2 separate regions of the Homo sapiens genome follow, and region 2 is linked to region 1. Evidence: fine-mapped expression QTL. A gene starts in region 1. The other region holds a variant in brackets. All regions are shown on one strand. Distances are from middle to middle.

The links. PIP is the estimated chance that this variant, and not a neighbour inherited with it, causes the effect.
Region 2: its variant is fine-mapped to the expression of MAN1B1 in whole blood (Lepik 2017, PIP 0.95).

Annotation. Positions count from the first base shown.
Region 1 is chr9:137,081,964-137,090,281 of GRCh38, forward strand. It overlaps MAN1B1 (mannosidase alpha class 1B member 1), which reads left to right and starts at 5,022. Exons shown (of 13, transcript NM_016219.5): 1 at 5,022-5,255; 2 at 6,112-6,220; 3 at 6,906-7,042. The coding sequence starts at 5,037. UAP1L1 (UDP-N-acetylglucosamine pyrophosphorylase 1 like 1) reads left to right here. Exons shown (of 9, transcript NM_207309.3): 8 at 35-101; 9 at 674-2,575. The coding sequence ends at 766. MAN1B1-DT (MAN1B1 divergent transcript) reads right to left here and starts at 4,854. Exons shown (of 1, transcript NR_027447.1): 1 at 2,983-4,854. RefSeq lists enhancers at 1,449-1,778, 4,946-5,175 and silencers at 1,556-1,790, 4,376-4,605, 5,156-5,385.
Region 2 is chr9:137,139,091-137,147,408 of GRCh38, forward strand. GRIN1 (glutamate ionotropic receptor NMDA type subunit 1) reads left to right here and starts at 64. Exons shown (of 20, transcript NM_007327.4): 1 at 64-654; 2 at 2,923-3,057; 3 at 6,636-6,812. The coding sequence starts at 397. The variant G/C (reference allele first, on the strand shown) is at 4,775.

The sequences.
Region 1 (8,318 bases):
TGCAAGGAGATATTGACAAGTGGACTTTCCCTAGCTTGCCCCCAAATGGAGACCCTCCGGCCATCTGTGAGATATCGCCCTTGGTGTCTTACTCTGGAGAGGTGAGAGCTGCCCATCCCTATCTGGGGCTTTTCTGGTGTCAGGTTTGGAATACCATCTGGGGAGAGGTGGCTGCTCGGGTGGAGACGGCACAGCTCTACCTCGGTTAACCAATGGGGTCGGTGGTTTAAATTTGCAGAAGACTTTCCAAGATATGGGTTGGGGTGGGGTGAGGCATCCAGAGGCCTTTGCAGGTCCTGGGAGGGCATGGGGATGAGACAGCCCAGGTCTGAGCCCAGTGTGGGGCCAGTCAGGCCTTGGTGGGGGCCTTGCGGAGGGAGGACACCGGCCTCTGCTACCTCCCTGACCTCGGCTGCCCTTGCCCCTTTCTCTGGTCAGGTCAGACCTGTGCGTGACAGGAGGGTCCCCTGCTGGCCTAGGGTCTTGAGTGTGGTCTTGGGTGGCCTTGCAGTGTGTGTCTGCTCCTGGCCCTGGAAGCCTTTCTGTCCCCACCCCTCCCTGACTCCAGGCAGACCTGGGATCGCACCTGGGGACTGTGGCTCTTGGTGTGGCCAGAGGGGCTGTGACCCGCCAAAAGGTGGGTACTTGGCCATTGTCCCCTGCTCGTCTCCAGGGTTTAGAAGTGTACCTGCAAGGCCGGGAGTTCCAGTCCCCGCTCATCCTGGATGAAGACCAGGCCAGGGAGCCGCAGCTGCAGGAGTCCTGACCCGCCCAGACTGTCCCCAGACTCCCCCGAGACCTGCCAGCCCCGGCATCCTGGAAGTCCCGACTCCCCCCAGACCTGCCAGCCCCGGCGTCCTGGAGCTGGGGGCTACAGCCCAGCCTGAGCTCTGGGTGGGAAAGCAGCCTGCCCCATGCTTCCAGCCTGCAGAACACAGAATGAAACATGCTGGTAGACTCCACGAGGGCAGGGCCTCTCCTGTCGCCTCTGGACACAAGTGGCGACAGCCTGCTGGGGGCTCTGTGGCTCCATTCCTGGCTGTGGGGTCTAGTCAAGAGGCAGAGGGACTTGGGACCTGGGAGAATGGGGCTGAGAGGAGGCTTCGGGTTGGGGCCCAAGGGAGGTGTGGTGTCATCTGGGGAGAACAGGAGGGCATGTCCCTTTGGGAGCCCGCCTTGTGGATCCACCACACCCCACCGAGCACTAGAAGCTGCATAAGCTACACAGGATGTGCTTCTGCAGCCTACAGATGCAGAACCAGAATGAGGGGGACAATTCCACCCACTCGAGGGCTGCCCCCTCTTCCTTAGCAGACGAACCAGTAATGGGGGCAAGGCTGGGGCATCCCAGCCCACACACCCTGGATGCCCAGCAAGGCCACAGAAAGAGCCTGATGTCCATGATCCAGGTGGCTCTGAGAAGCTTGGCCTGGACACCTGAGCCTGCGGCCGGTACTCCTGCCTTCTCCCCATCTATCCCCAAGGCCTCTGCCTCTCAGCCTCTTCCATGGTCGGTTTAGGCTGCTGAGTTTTCTGTGCTTCCCCAAGAACCAGTGGGATCAATGCCGGCGGCCTCTGTGATGGTTGCTGACTAATCCGGGATTTCATGAGTCAGAGGCACCACCCCTCACCCCAGCTGCCTGCTGCTTCTGACGGATCTTGGTGCTCAGGCTGCCTGGCTCTCCGAGTGAGGACGCAGCCTCCATATTTGGTGCACTCAGGCATGGCTGGGACAAGCCAGCTGCCCCAGGGTTCTTCCCCTGGTGATTCTCGCCTGCTTTCTCATCTCAGGGGAGGCAGTGGCACCTCCCTCTCCCTGCTGACATGAAGAGAGCTATGATATGCCACTGCTGCCAACTCATCCTCTGCCCCCACCTCGAAACCCACAGTCCCCAGTGGAGGGCCACTACTCATCCCCATTGGTTTCCCAGGGGAGGGGTGTTGTCTGGAAGGGCAGGTTCAGATGCAGCCTTCCAGATTTAGAGGCACTGGGAGGACAGTGGCTGAGTGGAGGCGCCCAGACCTGGGCAGGCAGCAGGCTCAGGCCCACACCTTGTGATTTTTGAAACCAAAGCCCAGAAGATGATGTTTACTTCTCTCTCCCTGGCTCTGCCCTTCTTACTGCAAACCATGCTGTGCCTTAGGGCCCTTCTCATAGCTGTTCCTCATGGCCATGACTGGAACAGGGATGCAACCTCTTTCTACACAAGCACAGTTAGTTGGGTGAAGTCTTTTTTTTTGTTTGTTTTAGACGGAGTTTCACTCTTGTTGCCCAGGCTGGAGTGAAGTGGCGTGACCTTGGCTCACTGCAACCTCCAGGCCAGCCTCAGCCTCCCTAGTAGCTGGGACTACAGGCACCCACTACCACGCCTGGCTAATTCTTTGTATTTTTAGTAGAGATGGGGTTTGACCGTGTTAGCCAGGATGGTCTCGATCTCCTGACCTCGTGATCCACCCACCTCGGCCTCCCAAAGTGCTGGGATTATAGGTGTGAGCCACCGCGCCGGGCCGGTTGCTGGCATCTTAATGTTCTGTAGGTGGAATATTTCCAATAAACACAAGGTGCCGTAATTGACTGCTACTCTGGCAAGTGCAGTTTTTGGGCAGTGCACGGGTGTTGGGAACAAGGATCAGGTGTTCACAGCTGTGTCCCAGGGCTGGAGCTCACTGGGGGCCCCCTTAGGGACAGGAGTTCACACATGAAGGCCAAGACTACTTGGGGTGCCAAGGAATCCCCCCGCGGTCCCATCCCACTCTTCACCAGGGTCTCAGGAGGGCCTGAGACAACCTGCGGTCAGGAACCTCGGGGCGCTCTCCAGGGCAGGCTTCTGCATGCTCAGCTCTGACAGCCTGGAGACTCGCTCTCCTGCACCTGCATCCTTGAGATGCCAAGGTTTCCCTGCTAACCACGTGAGGATGCTTGGGGTACTCCAGGGACTGACAAGAGTGAGTGGTGTCAACCTAAAGAGAAACTCAGGCTCTCCAGAATAAATGAATTTAATCAAGAATAACACATAATTGCAATGCAGAGTATGCAAGCCTCAGTGGGTCACAGGCATGTGGTGGGGGGGTGGGGTGGGGATTGAGGAAAGGGGGAATTTTTTTTTTTTGAGACTGGATCTCACTCTGTTGCCCAGGCTGGAGTGCAGTGGTGCAATCATGGCTCACTGCAGCCTCGACCTCCTGGGGCTTAGGTGGTCTTCCCACCTCAGCCTCCAGAGTAGCTGGGACCACAGGTGCACACCACCACACTGGACTCATTTTTTTATTTTTTGTAGAGACAGGGGTTTCACCATGTTGCCCAGGTTGGACTCCTGAGCTCAGGGGATCTGCCCACCTTGGCCTCCAAAAGTGCTGGGATTACTACAGGCATGAGTCACTGTGCCCCGCCCACGGGAAATTTCTTTTTTTTTTTTTTTTTTTTTTTTGAGACAGAGTCTTGCTCTGTTGCCCAGGCTGGAGTGCAGTGGTGCCATCTCGGCTCACTGCAACCTCCACCTCCTGGGTTCAAGGAATTCTCCTGCCTAAGCCTCCCGTGTAGCTGGGACTACAGGTGCCTGCCACCAACCATGCCCTGCTAATTTTTTTGTGTTTTTTGTAGAGACGGGTGTCTCACCATGTTGGCCAGGCTAGTCTTGAACTCCTGACCTCAAGTGATCCACCTGCCTCGGCCTCCCAAAGTCCTGGGATTACAGAAGCCACCGCGCCTGGCCCCAAGGGGAATCTTTTAAAAAAGAGAAGTTCCCATAAACTGCTTTGAAACCATAAAGACCAAAGGTTAGAAGGGTTTGCCGCAGGCGCTCCGTTGCTAATGTTTTTGTGAGGGCTTCTTCAGGGCCTCTTGTTAGAGTGTGACATAAACGACTTCATTTGGGTACCAGCAAGTGTCACAGGGGGCAGAGACCAGCAGAAACCTAAAGATGACCCCTAGAAGAGCAGGAGGCCAGGGGAACAGAGTTAGACGAGCCACGTGCTAAGCAGGACGTCGCTGCCGGGGGAGCTCTCCAGACACGCAGAAATGCCACAGTCAGGACCGTGGGACGCAGCGGATTCGCCCAAGGGCAGGAGCAGCCTGGCCAGGAGAGAATGAAGGAGGGGCCGGGCGTGAGGTTCGGCTGGGGAGAACCCAGGCAGGGAGGGCCTCGGGCGGCCACGGACGCCGCTTTGCCATTTTGGGCGTTTCTGGGGAGGACAACGCGTGCAGGAAGCGCAGTCATCTCAAGCTGACCTCCAAGGTTACCGAGTTCGAGGGCTGGGAGCCGGGTCTGAAAGCCCCGACCCGCCTATGGCGCGGGGACTGTGGGTCCAGCCGGCCGATTGGCCGCCTCGCTCGGCGCCGGTCCAGGCGCAGCGCTCGGGCCCCGGGGACCGTGAGATGCGGCGCAGCCAGCTTAGCTCGGGGTAGCAGCCACCCCAGCCCGGGTGCCGCCCGGCCTGGTCCGCGACTTCGGGAGGGTCCGGTCCTTCCCCCGGCCCCCACGCCTGGGTGAGGCCCTGGGCTTCTTGCCGGTGACCACGCGGCCAGGGTGGGCACCAGCCCAGGACGGCGCCCAAGGGCAGCCCAGCTCCATCCCCGCGCCGCGGGTTCCGGAACCGAGGCGCGGGACGCTGGGACTCTCTGCCAACATGGCGGCCCCGCCCGGGCGCCTCCCCGGGTCCCTAGTGTCTGCGTCTCCCGTGAGGGCGTGGGCAAAGTCGGTGCAGCCAGACGACAGGAGGCGAGAGAAGCCCAGCTCCAGGCCCATGAGGCGAACCACGTGGGAGCCCCAGACAGCGACCACGCCCCAGGCGAACCAAGGCCCGCCCCGTTGCTACAGCTACGCTCGTAGCACACCTGGGCAGGCGCTGCCGGACGCATGCGCAATGAACCTGAGGGCAGGGCGGAGTCGCAGCAGTTGTCTGACGCAGTCGCCGTAGGACGCAGCCCCGTACGCTGGAGCGCAGCGGAGACAGGCGCGGGCGCACTGGCCGCATAGAGACGCAGCGCACGCGCAGTCGCGTATCCGTGTGATGGGCGGGCTGTTGACGGCGCTGCGATGGCTGCCTGCGAGGGCAGGAGAAGCGGAGCTCTCGGTTCCTCTCAGTCGGACTTCCTGACGCCGCCAGTGGGCGGGGCCCCTTGGGCCGTCGCCACCACTGTAGTCATGTACCCACCGCCGCCGCCGCCGCCTCATCGGGACTTCATCTCGGTGACGCTGAGCTTTGGCGAGAACTATGACAACAGCAAGAGTTGGCGGCGGCGCTCGTGCTGGAGGGTGAGGGTCGCGCCGGGCTGACTGGGGCCCGGGGCTGCCGTGCCCGCCGCCCTCCCAGACTGCGGCTCCGAGCGGGACCTGGGCGGGCGGACTCGACTCCCCAGGCGCCGCCCTCTCCACCCCTTCCCCGCAAAAAGGGGCAAATGTGCGTTCCTGGTTGGGGCAGCCGTGGGCGGCTCGCCTGCAGCGGTCTCAGCGGCCCAAATTCTGCGGGGCGGTGGTGGGAAGAGGGCTCAGAGCCCCAGCAGGTTTTCTGGGCTTCGTTCGCTTTTCTGCAAGGTCCTGGCCCAGGCGCCTGCCCCTCTTGGAGCGGAAACCGGAGGTTCCCCGTGGTGTATGCTCCCCTCGGTACAGTGAGAAATGAGCCCCTCTTGATTGGCTCCTGGTCTGTTCGTGGTGGTCTCAGGCCGAAGGGCATTGATAACCACATGCGGACTGTGCATCGCCTGGGCGGTGCCTGGGCTACATCTGTGGGAGTCGCAGGAGTCTTTCTCCACTGTTGATGAAATGTGACAGAAATGTTTCTGCTTTTTTCTTATCCTCGTCTCATCTGCACCACTGTATTAACGACATCTGTAGTATTGTCCCAGCAATGTTCCTACTCCCTGCTGAGAGGGAACTTCTCCCCATTCAAAATAAATAGAGCTGGCCGGGCACGGTGGCTCATCCCGCGTTCCACCCACTACACTCCAGCCTAGGTGTAACAGAATGAGACCCTGTTTCCAAAAAAAAAAAGAAATAGAGCTGAACACTGGATCTTCCAGAAGAATTCCTTATTGTCCTCACAGTTTGTGACAGTTGAGACGTTCCGTGTGATATATTCAGTAAGAAATGTCATTCTCTGTACCTCCCTTAGAAATGGAAGCAACTGTCGAGATTGCAGCGGAATATGATTCTCTTCCTCCTTGCCTTTCTGCTTTTCTGTGGACTCCTCTTCTACATCAACTTGGCTGACCATTGGAAAGGTATCAGAAACACGTGTACTTGAAAACGATATCTGTGTTGAGGGTTGATTGGGCAGAAGCAATCTTGCATTCTACCTTAAACAGCTCCAGGAGGCATATATGGCAACGAATTGGCAAGAAATCAAGATAAAGAGAAAGGTAGAGCTGTATGTAACCACCTGGCTAGAACACAGATGTTAATTTGATGCTGTCTGACTACTTTCTAGGTCTCTGGTGTAAGTACTGATATGTCCAGCCTCCCTTATAGAGTAAGTCAGCTGGTGGGCTTGAACACTCAGCCTAAATAACCACACAAATTTCGTAGCACTCATTAGCGTGTGTTTGGAAAAGACCAGGCAGAGTTCTGGTGAGGATGTGGAGAATCTCTTCTCACTTGGTCTAAGATGCTTCTCTTTGGAGCAAAGCTAAAGGGCTCCTGCCCACCTGCCACATGCTGAACGTCCCTGAATGGAAAATAGGAAGGCAAAAGATGTGGGGTTCTGTGTTATGGACAAGGACACAAACTGCCAAGTGTTTTGAAAAAGATTTCATTCCCTTGGGACATTGTTGAATTCATTTCAGTGACTATCAGGTATCATAATGTTGATTTGTAATGGATAGTGCCTGCCAAGTGTTTTTATAAAGCAGTTTAAATCTCTTGTAGGCCTTGTGGCATATTTGAAATAAAATAGCTTCTGTTATTCAGCTCTGGCTTTCAGGCTAGAGGAAGAGCAGAAGATGAGGCCAGAAATTGCTGGGTTAAAACCAGCAAATCCACCCGTCTTACCAGCTCCTCAGAAGGCGGACACCGACCCTGAGAACTTACCTGAGATTTCGTCACAGGTACTTTGAGCAAATGGTGTGGGGTTATAACTGGGGTTCAATCCAGAGGCATTTCAAACCACTGAAGATTGAGAAGAATTATTTTCCTTTACCATTTATTACCACGTGTTTACCTCTCTCTCGTTTTGGACTGGTCGGATAATACTTGGGGAAAGAGAGGCGTAGTCTTTGCTTCATTCTTTTTGAAGACCAGCCATGGCCAGTTCCGGTTTTACTTCTGACTGTGCAGTGTTGAATAAGACAGACCTGTTTCCTCTCAAGAGGCCACAGCTGGTAGGAGAGGCTGGTGAGAAGCCAGGCACAGATGGGCAGAGGCAGATGGCACATGGTGTACATCCTATGTGGAAAAGAGCAGGGCGCTGGTGAAGAACAGTGGCTGGTCCTGAGGGTTCAGGGGAGGCCGTGGCACTGAGGGCAAGATCTGAGGGCTGAGAAGCTGCTGGCACCGGGCAAGGTGGGGAGAGGCAGACTTGAGCCTGAGTGAAACTGCCTGAGGCAAGGAGGACCTTGGCATATGCGGGAAGGTGAAATTCCCAGGGCTGGGAGAGGGAGCAGGGGTTGGCTCAGTCCAGCTGTGGTCCTGCAGGTCCTGGAGGCAGCATGGAGGGTCCAGTTGATGTATGCGGGAAGATTTTGGCGTGGACTGGAGGTCTGAGATGTTTACTGTGAAACTGCTCTGGCTGGGTGGAGACACAGTGGAGGGCAGGAGGCCAGGAGAGCTGCCTGGCCGTGGGAAAAGCTGAGTGGGGGGAGGAGTGCTCCGCAGGAGTGGGCCTTGGGAGAAGGAGGGTGAGTCCCCGGGTGGAGGGGCCAGCAAAGGCTGTGCAGGCTCTGGCTTGGGGACACTGAGGAGCTCCGTTTTGGATCTGCCCACTGTGAGATGTCTGGGAGGCGCCATGGAGACCTTGGTGGGCAGGTGGTGCCAGGATCAGAGTCTGCCAGGGGAGACAGGTTTTAGGAGTCCCTAGGTATAGGTGGTTTGTGTCCTCTGGAAACGTTGGAAGAAGGGGCCAGGCCTAGTCCTGGGCACCACCAGGCTGAGAAGATTGGGGTCAGGGAGGAGGGCAGGGGGAGTGGAGACTGGGGATGGGTCAGGAGGCAGCTGGAGAACCAGGAAAACGTCCTGTCAGTGAAGGTTTGGTTCAGGAAGAACAGCCAAATCCCCGACACCGTTGAGAACACCAGGGTGGTGCTGACTCTGGTGTGGCTGCTCGGAACCCTTAGAAGGCCCTTAGGGTGTTAGTTACTGTTGTTGGTACATCTGTGATTGTGTCTA
Region 2 (8,318 bases), 57 kb after region 1:
TGGGAAGCGGGGGCGGCGGGAGGGGCAGGAGACGTTGGCCCCGCTCGCGTTTCTGCAGCTGCTGCAGTCGCCGCAGCGTCCGGACCGGAACCAGCGCCGTCCGCGGAGCCGCCGCCGCCGCCGCCGGGCCCTTTCCAAGCCGGGCGCTCGGAGCTGTGCCCGGCCCCGCTTCAGCACCGCGGACAGCGCCGGCCGCGTGGGGCTGAGCCCCGAGCCCCCGCGCACGCTTCAGCGCCCCTTCCCTCGGCCGACGTCCCGGGACCGCCGCTCCGGGGGAGACGTGGCGTCCGCAGCCCGCGGGGCCGGGCGAGCGCAGGACGGCCCGGAAGCCCCGCGGGGGATGCGCCGAGGGCCCCGCGTTCGCGCCGCGCAGAGCCAGGCCCGCGGCCCGAGCCCATGAGCACCATGCGCCTGCTGACGCTCGCCCTGCTGTTCTCCTGCTCCGTCGCCCGTGCCGCGTGCGACCCCAAGATCGTCAACATTGGCGCGGTGCTGAGCACGCGGAAGCACGAGCAGATGTTCCGCGAGGCCGTGAACCAGGCCAACAAGCGGCACGGCTCCTGGAAGATTCAGCTCAATGCCACCTCCGTCACGCACAAGCCCAACGCCATCCAGATGGCTCTGTCGGTGTGCGAGGACCTCATCTCCAGCCAGGTGCCCTCCCCCACCTCCGCCACCCACCTCCCCTCTCCTCCATCCTGCAACCCCACACCCCCAGTTTCATTCCATCCTTTCCGTGCCCCCTTCCTCCCTGTAAGACACCACCCCAGAGTCAGCTGGCTGCTTCCGGGAGGCCTCGTCTCACTAGGAACCAAACACCAGGGTCTGCTGGCTCCCCTATCTTGGCCTGAGACCAGTCACCTGCCACCTTGGCTGGTCCTCAGAGGGCCCCTGGGGCTCCAGGCCCTGACTGGTGTGTGTAGACGTGGGGCTGGAGTGTGTCAGTGTGGGGGTGGGCATTCCGGGTAAGAGAGTAGAAGCGCCTGTCCAGCTACATGCCCGCCCTGCAGAGCTTTAAACAGGACGGGGCCTGGGGCCATCTTTGTTTCTGCTTCCAGGTTCTCCTGCCCTTTCTTTCGTCCCTTCCCCCTACCGATGGGTCCGCCTGGGAAGAGAAATGGCTCAGGTGCCACGGCAGGACGCTTTGTGGGGGTGGGAGTGGGGGTGCACACGCGAGAGGCATCAGGGCATGGGAGCTGTCGGCAGCCAGCGCTGCGGGGGAGGACGTGGCTCCTGGGATTTTGCCTGTCGGAGCTGTCCGCCCCTGGGCCGAGCGCCTGCTGAATTCCAATGAGGCTGCAAGGATCTGCAATGCAGCCCTTTATGTAAGAGGCAAGACAGACATCCAGCCTAGCACCGCTCACACGTGCCTACCTGATGGACACACCACATCTGTGGACACACATGCTCACACTCACACCAAATGTTACATTAGCACACACTCATGCACCTCAGCATCACACAATCAATTTCATATGCTCATCTGCACACATGCAGATCCATTGACACCTGCTCATGTGCCACACACGGCTTGGCATGCATTCCCAGAGGCACGTGCAAACATGCACATTTACACACATGGTTCCAGTCATTCACACGCATGTACACGAACAGACATGCCAGGGCATGTGATGCACATAACCATACCCTAGCACACGCGTGAACACCTGCATGGTCACACACGGACCTACGGGTCTTTGCCAAGCACCTCTGGGTGCAGGCTGGAAGCAAGAGCTGGGGGAGGGAGAACCACTTCAAACAGCTGCAGCTGCAGGGCCCACACCAGAGTTTTCTCAGAAATCCTCCCTCCCCACTTCACAAGCCACCCCCGTGCCCCAGCCCAGGACACCATGGGATGGGACTGGGGGGATGCATCTGTAGCCAGTGGCTGCAGTCACATATTCCATCTGGGACTGGGGAGGGACACGGAAGGTGGACTCAGGAAATCCAGGAGGGGCCATTCCTGGGGAATTGCTTCAACTCACGCCCATGTTGCTGTCTGTCTGTGGGCATGGCCTCTGCAGCAAAGGCAATGCCTGCAGCTACCACTCACGGAACACACCCCCGGCCAGGTACTGTCCTGCCACGTGGGGCCATGCAGTGCACGCCCCCATTCGCCAAAGCTCTAAGAGGCACAGGCAGACTTGGGGACAGACGCAGGTCCTTGCTGTGTGAAGGTGGTGTGGACCACCAGCTGCCTGCCTCCCTGCCTTGGGAGGCTGGGGAGAGAGGGAGGCATCAGCTCCAGGGGGCTGAGCCGCTGGCTTTAGATCTGCCCCATGGGGCCTTGGTCATGGGCAGGAAGGCTGGGCTGCACCCCCAATGCCTCCCTTCCCTTCCTTGAGGATGAGGCCAGCACTCAAAGTAAGGGCTTGGTGTTGTTCAGACAGAGCCCGTCACAGGCCCTGCCCCTGGAGACACCAGCAAAAGGGATCTCGGCCTCTTTGGCAGCTCCTAGCTGCTTCCCCCTGAAGTCCGGTACCACCCTTCAGAGCTGCCCGCCCTGTCTCGGGATGTGGGCTGGCCCCACCCCTGGCCCATCAGGAAGGACGGGTGGGTTCTGAGAATCAAGGCCATCATGATGCAGGACCAGCCATCCTCCCCGGTCCACCTTGGGTGCGTCCCGTGCTCCAGGCCCCCAGGACATCCCAAGGGCAGTCCTTCACCTGGCCCTTGAGCACAACACCTGCAGGGCCCTAGTCAGCAGTGTGAGAGGAGTGAGGGGAGGTCCGGGTGGGGTCTCCCTCCCCTGCCCTGTGGGCATGTGTGCATCTGGGCCTGGGCATGTAGCATGTACCCGAATCATGCCCCCAGCCCCCCTTAGCCTGCTGGGTTCAGCCCCTGCTGCTTCCAGATCTCAGCCTCTAACCCAGTGCCTGGCTCACCCCTGACTCAAGCTGATCATGTCTCCTGTGTCCACAGGTCTACGCCATCCTAGTTAGCCATCCACCTACCCCCAACGACCACTTCACTCCCACCCCTGTCTCCTACACAGCCGGCTTCTACCGCATACCCGTGCTGGGGCTGACCACCCGCATGTCCATCTACTCGGACAAGGTAAGCCTGACTGCCAGACCAGGCCTTCCGGCCCTCGGCCCCAGGGCACAGCCTGGCCACTCCAGGAGCAGCGGGCCGACCCGCTCACATGGAACTCACACACCACAAACAGCCACACAGCTCCCCCACATTCATGCACGTCCACACGCTCTCACGTGTCCAACTCACACATCTGCAAACATGCTCACATGCACACTCATGTGCTCTTACACACACAATACACACTCTCTTGCACATAGAGGGCTCACGTGGAGCCCAGCACGTGCCCCCAGCCCAGAGCAGGCCAAAGGGAGGGGGCACACATCACACACTCACACATCACACACACATCACACACTCACACATTCATACAGCACCCACACGCTACACTGCTATGCTCACCCTCCCCACACATGAACACTGACACACCCATGGATTCGCACAAAGTCACACACACTCACTGGCACAGGCACCAGTGACACCCCCTCAGGACGAGAGGGCCCGTGGGCTAGGAGAAGGGATGGCTGGGAGGCTTTCTAGACAGGTGGACTTTGAAGGGGAGTTTGGAGAGCTGGGGGTTGCTCCAGGAGGAAAGGGGTGTGCACGCAGCCAGGGTGGTGGGGCCAGCCTTTCCCACTGCAGGCATGGGTGGAGAGCAATGTCTGTGGTTGCAGCTCAGGGTCGGGGGCGCTGGCCTGGGGGCTTCCAGCCTCTAGGGCTGAGGGCACCTTGGCTTAGCCTCCTGCAGACCCTCCTGGCCCACAGGCTATGAGGAGGGCTTCTGTCCAATCCTGGAACATCAGCTGGAAGAGAGGAGGGTCATCCAGTCAGTTTTGCAGGAATCTCCAAGCCAGAGAGCCATGGGGGCTTGCTCTAGGTCACACAGCCCTCCGTCTACCCAGGATGCAAACTGGGCACTGAGAGGCTGACCAACCTGGGGCCACTGGCAGACAGACCTGCAGGGCCACTTGGCAGGGGACATCCAGTTTGGTGCCAGCGCTGAGGAGCCAGAGGGCTGGGCTGTGCAGCCAGGCTTCTGGGTCCCCCACCTTCTCCAAATTCCTCCTGCCCAGAGTCCACAGTCCTTGGTAACACTGCCTTAAAGCACAGGGGTCGCCCCAGCCAGGCCCAGGCTCTTCTGGGAGGATGGAAGGCCCCAGAGGCAGGAACTGAGACAGAGGCTGGAACAGCCACCTTCCTGAGGCTCTGAAAGCCCTGGCGTGCCCCCTCGGCACCCAAACTGCTCCTCCCAGGTGACTTCACCTCTGGCCATGGGAAGGTGGGGGTCTCATTCCTGTGCCCTCAGGCACGACCTCCTTCGCCTCTCTGGGCACCAGTTTCCTCACATGTGAAGGAGAGAAGATGGCCTTACCCAGGAAAGCAGCCAGTGGTCAAATGAAAGGCGGGGGAAACGGATGCCCCTGGCCCAGAGCAGGCCAAAGGGAGGGGGCACAGCTCACAGCTGCACCCTGGCCTTACCACAGTCTCTACACTACAACCAACCTGTGCCCAAAACATGAACCGGCAAGGCCAGGTCAGAGCTAGTCCAAGACCTCAAGCACAGCCTGCCTTGCCACCACGTCACCAGGTGGATAGACAGAAGCAGGGGACATTTTTGCACCCCAAGGCACTGCCCCAGGCCACAAAGAGGGAGCAGGTGAAAAATAACCTGGAAGCCTCAGAGGACCACAAGATCAGCAAGAGTCCACAGGGACACTGAAGGAACCAGGGCTTACCT[G/C]GACAGACACAGAGAACTGAGGCAGAGGGGGGCAGAGCCTGCTCCACTCCCGGCCATGCCACGGCACTCCGTGGCAGCTTGAAGCCAGGAAAAGCAAGCCAGGGCAAGCAAGCACCACGCTCTCGCCTGGGGAGATGAGGCCTTTAGCCCCAAGAGTGAATTCTTCTTCATACATAGAGTTGTTTAAATTTGGGAGGACTCTATGGGCAGCCCCAGGGGGATCTTCGAGGCGCTATGTGTCATCAAGAATTTCCTGAGCTCAGCTTGTCCAAAGGTGGTGGGCTGCAGGGGAAGAGGTGAGCTCACCCCAGGCACAATTCCACAGAAACCCACGTCCCTTAGGGTGCTATGGGGCCAACACTAAACCTCCTCCATTTCCGAGATTATATGTGGGAGGAGAGGCCGGGGTGGGAGAGAGGTTCCCAGGGTCTAAAAAGTGTCCCCAGGATGGTGGGGACAGGGGTGGGAAAAAGGAGGGGTCCCAGTGTCTAGAAAGTGTCCCCAGGTTGGCCGGGCGCGGTGGCTCACGCCTGTAATCCCAGCACTTTGGGAGGCCGAGGCGGGCGGATCACGAGGTCAGGAGATCGAGACCATCCTGGCTAATACGGTGAAACCCCATCTCCACTAAAAATACAAAAAAATTAGCCGGGCGTGGTGGCGGGCGCCTGTAGTCTCAGCTACTTGGGAGGCTGAGGCAGGAGAATGGTGTGAACCCAGGAGGCGGAGCCTGCAGTGAGCCGAGATTGCACTCCAGCCTGGGTAACAGTGCGAGACTGTTTAAAAAAAAAAAAAAGTGTCCCCAGGGTGGTGGGGACAGGGGTGGGAGACAGGAGGGGGTCCCAGGGTCTAGAAAGTGTCCCCAGGGGTGTGGGGACAGGAGTGAGAGGAAGGGGGTCCCAGGGTCCAGAAAGTGTCCCCAGGGTGGTAGGGACAGGGGTGGGAGACACGAGGGGGTCCCAGGGTCTAGAAAGTGTCCCCAGGGTGGCAGGGATGGGATGGGAGACACGAGGGGGTCCCAGAGTCTAGAAAGTGTCCCCAGGGGTGTGGGGACCGGGGTGAGAGGAAGGGGGTCCCAGGGTCCAGAAAGTGTCCCCAGAGGGGTGGGGACAGGAGTGAGAGGAAGGGGGTCCCAGGGTCCAGAAAGTGTCCCCAGAGGGGTGGGGACAGGAGTGAGAGGAAGGGGGTCCCAGGGTCCAGAAAGTGTCCCCAGAGGGGTGGGGACCGGGGTGAGAGGAAGGGGGTCCCAGGGTCTAGAAAGTGTCCCCAGAGGGGTGGGGACCGGGGTGAGAGGAAGGGGGTCCCAGGGTCTAGAAAGTGTCCCCAGGGGTGTGGGGACCGGGGTGAGAGGAAGGGGGTCCCAGGGTCCAGAAAGTGTCCCCAGAGGGGTGGGGACAGGAGTGAGAGGAAGGGGGTCCCAGGGTCCAGAAAGTGTCCCCAGAGGGGTGGGGACAGGAGTGAGAGGAAGGGGGTCCCAGGGTCCAGAAAGTGTCCCCAGGGTGGTAGGGACAGGGGTGGGAGACACGAGGGGGTCCCAGGGTCTAGAAAGTGTCCCCAGGGTGGCAGGGATGGGATGGGAGACACGAGGGGGTCCCAGAGTCTAGAAAGTGTCCCCAGCGGGGTGGGGACAGGGGTGGGAGACACGAGGGGGTCCCAGGGTCTAGAAAGTGTCCCCAGGGTGGTAGGGACGGGGTGGGAGACACGAGGGGGTCCCAGGGTCTAGAACGTGTCCCCATGGGGGTGGGGACAGGGGTGGGAGGAGGGGGGTTCCCAGCCTCCGGCGGGTGTTCCGGCAGTGGGAGGCGGGTGGGAGGGCGGGTCCCCGCGGGTCCACCTCAGCCCGCCGTGCCCCCGCCTCCCGCAGAGCATCCACCTGAGCTTCCTGCGCACCGTGCCGCCCTACTCCCACCAGTCCAGCGTGTGGTTTGAGATGATGCGTGTCTACAGCTGGAACCACATCATCCTGCTGGTCAGCGACGACCACGAGGGCCGGGCGGCTCAGAAACGCCTGGAGACGCTGCTGGAGGAGCGTGAGTCCAAGGTGAGGGTCGGCGCCGCGGGTGGGCGCCTGGCGGAGCCGAGGTGCAGGACGGGCCGCCTTGTGTCTGTGGCTCCGTGTGTGACACCCTCTTCTTTCCATCGTGCATGGTCAGCACCACCACGTCTGGCGAGCGCCCGCCCCAGCCTGTCCTCGGCTCATTTCACTCGCTTTTGCCATTAGTCGAAATCTCCTTCGTGTCAGTCCCTGCGGGGCGAGGGCCAGACCACCTGGAGCTCCGCAAACACCCCTGCCCCGCGCTGCCGAGCGCCCTCGTCCCCTCCTCCTGCCCATGCCCCTCGCTCCCTGGAGGCCCCAGCCGGGCTTGGGACTCGTCACCCTTCCCGCCCACCCTGTCCTGAGTCCCCAGCAGCCTCCCTCTGGGCAAGGTCTCCCCTGTACACGACCCCCACATACCGCCCCTGCAGGCCTGTCCCCTCCTGGCTGGGCCCATTCCCTGTCCTCCCCCGCGTGGCCTCCCCTGAAGCTCTGCACCTCATGGCTCAGCAAAGCCCTGTCCACAGACACCTGCCCCCCAGCCTGGACCGCCCCTGTGGGCTCCACTCCCCTCCTTGCCCCCACCACAGGGCTCCCTCTGCACTCCTCACCAAGACCCATTAGCCACCTGGTTCTAGGACACACTGACCCCCAACACAGCCAGGCGTCCACTCTGTGGGGCTGCAGAGAGATCAGAGCTGGGATTTGGGGGGGTCCGAGCGACCCCTTTCCCCTTCCTTACCACTCCCATTTGCAGTCTGGGGCAGAGCTGGTTCTCGGCTACAGACCCCCGGAGCCCTGGGTGCTCAGCACCTGGGCCAGCTCCTGATCAAGCAGTGGGAGGAGGCCCAGGCTGAGGAGGGCCAGACCTATGGGTGGCTGGGAGCATGTTTCGTGTCAGAGCTGGCTTCATCGGACTTAGGGCCAACCTAGCACCCCCCAAGGCACCCCAGGCCCCGGGAGGGACCAGAGGGCATGGGTCGGGGGTAAAGCCAGGGGCAGACCAGAGGGTCCTGGGAGTACTGTCGTGGGGGGTCTGCTGAGTCTTGGGGGGGAGGGGCATGGGCACCAAGGGCCCCACCCAAGACAGTGCCCCTCACCCCAGTGCCCGACAGGCCCCTCCCCCCAGCGCCCGACAGGCCCCTCCCCCCCAGCACCCGACAGGCCCCTCACCCCAGCGCTCGACAGGCCCCTCACCTTCTGGCATGTCCACCCACGGCCACGGACTCCCATCACACACTCACCCCTGCGCACCCAACTGCCTGCTTTCACTCACAGGTGCATGCACACATTCCCATCACACTCCACACCTCTGGCCACAGGCTCAGGCTTGCCTCCATGCAGCTCCAGCGCCACACACACACCTGGACACGTACTCAGGTGCGCTCCTCACACACACACCTGGACACGCACAGGTGCGCTCCTCACACACACACCTGGACACACGCTCAGGTGCGCTCCTCATGTGCATGCTCACCCTTACTTGCGCCAGCCAGCACAGACACACATGCA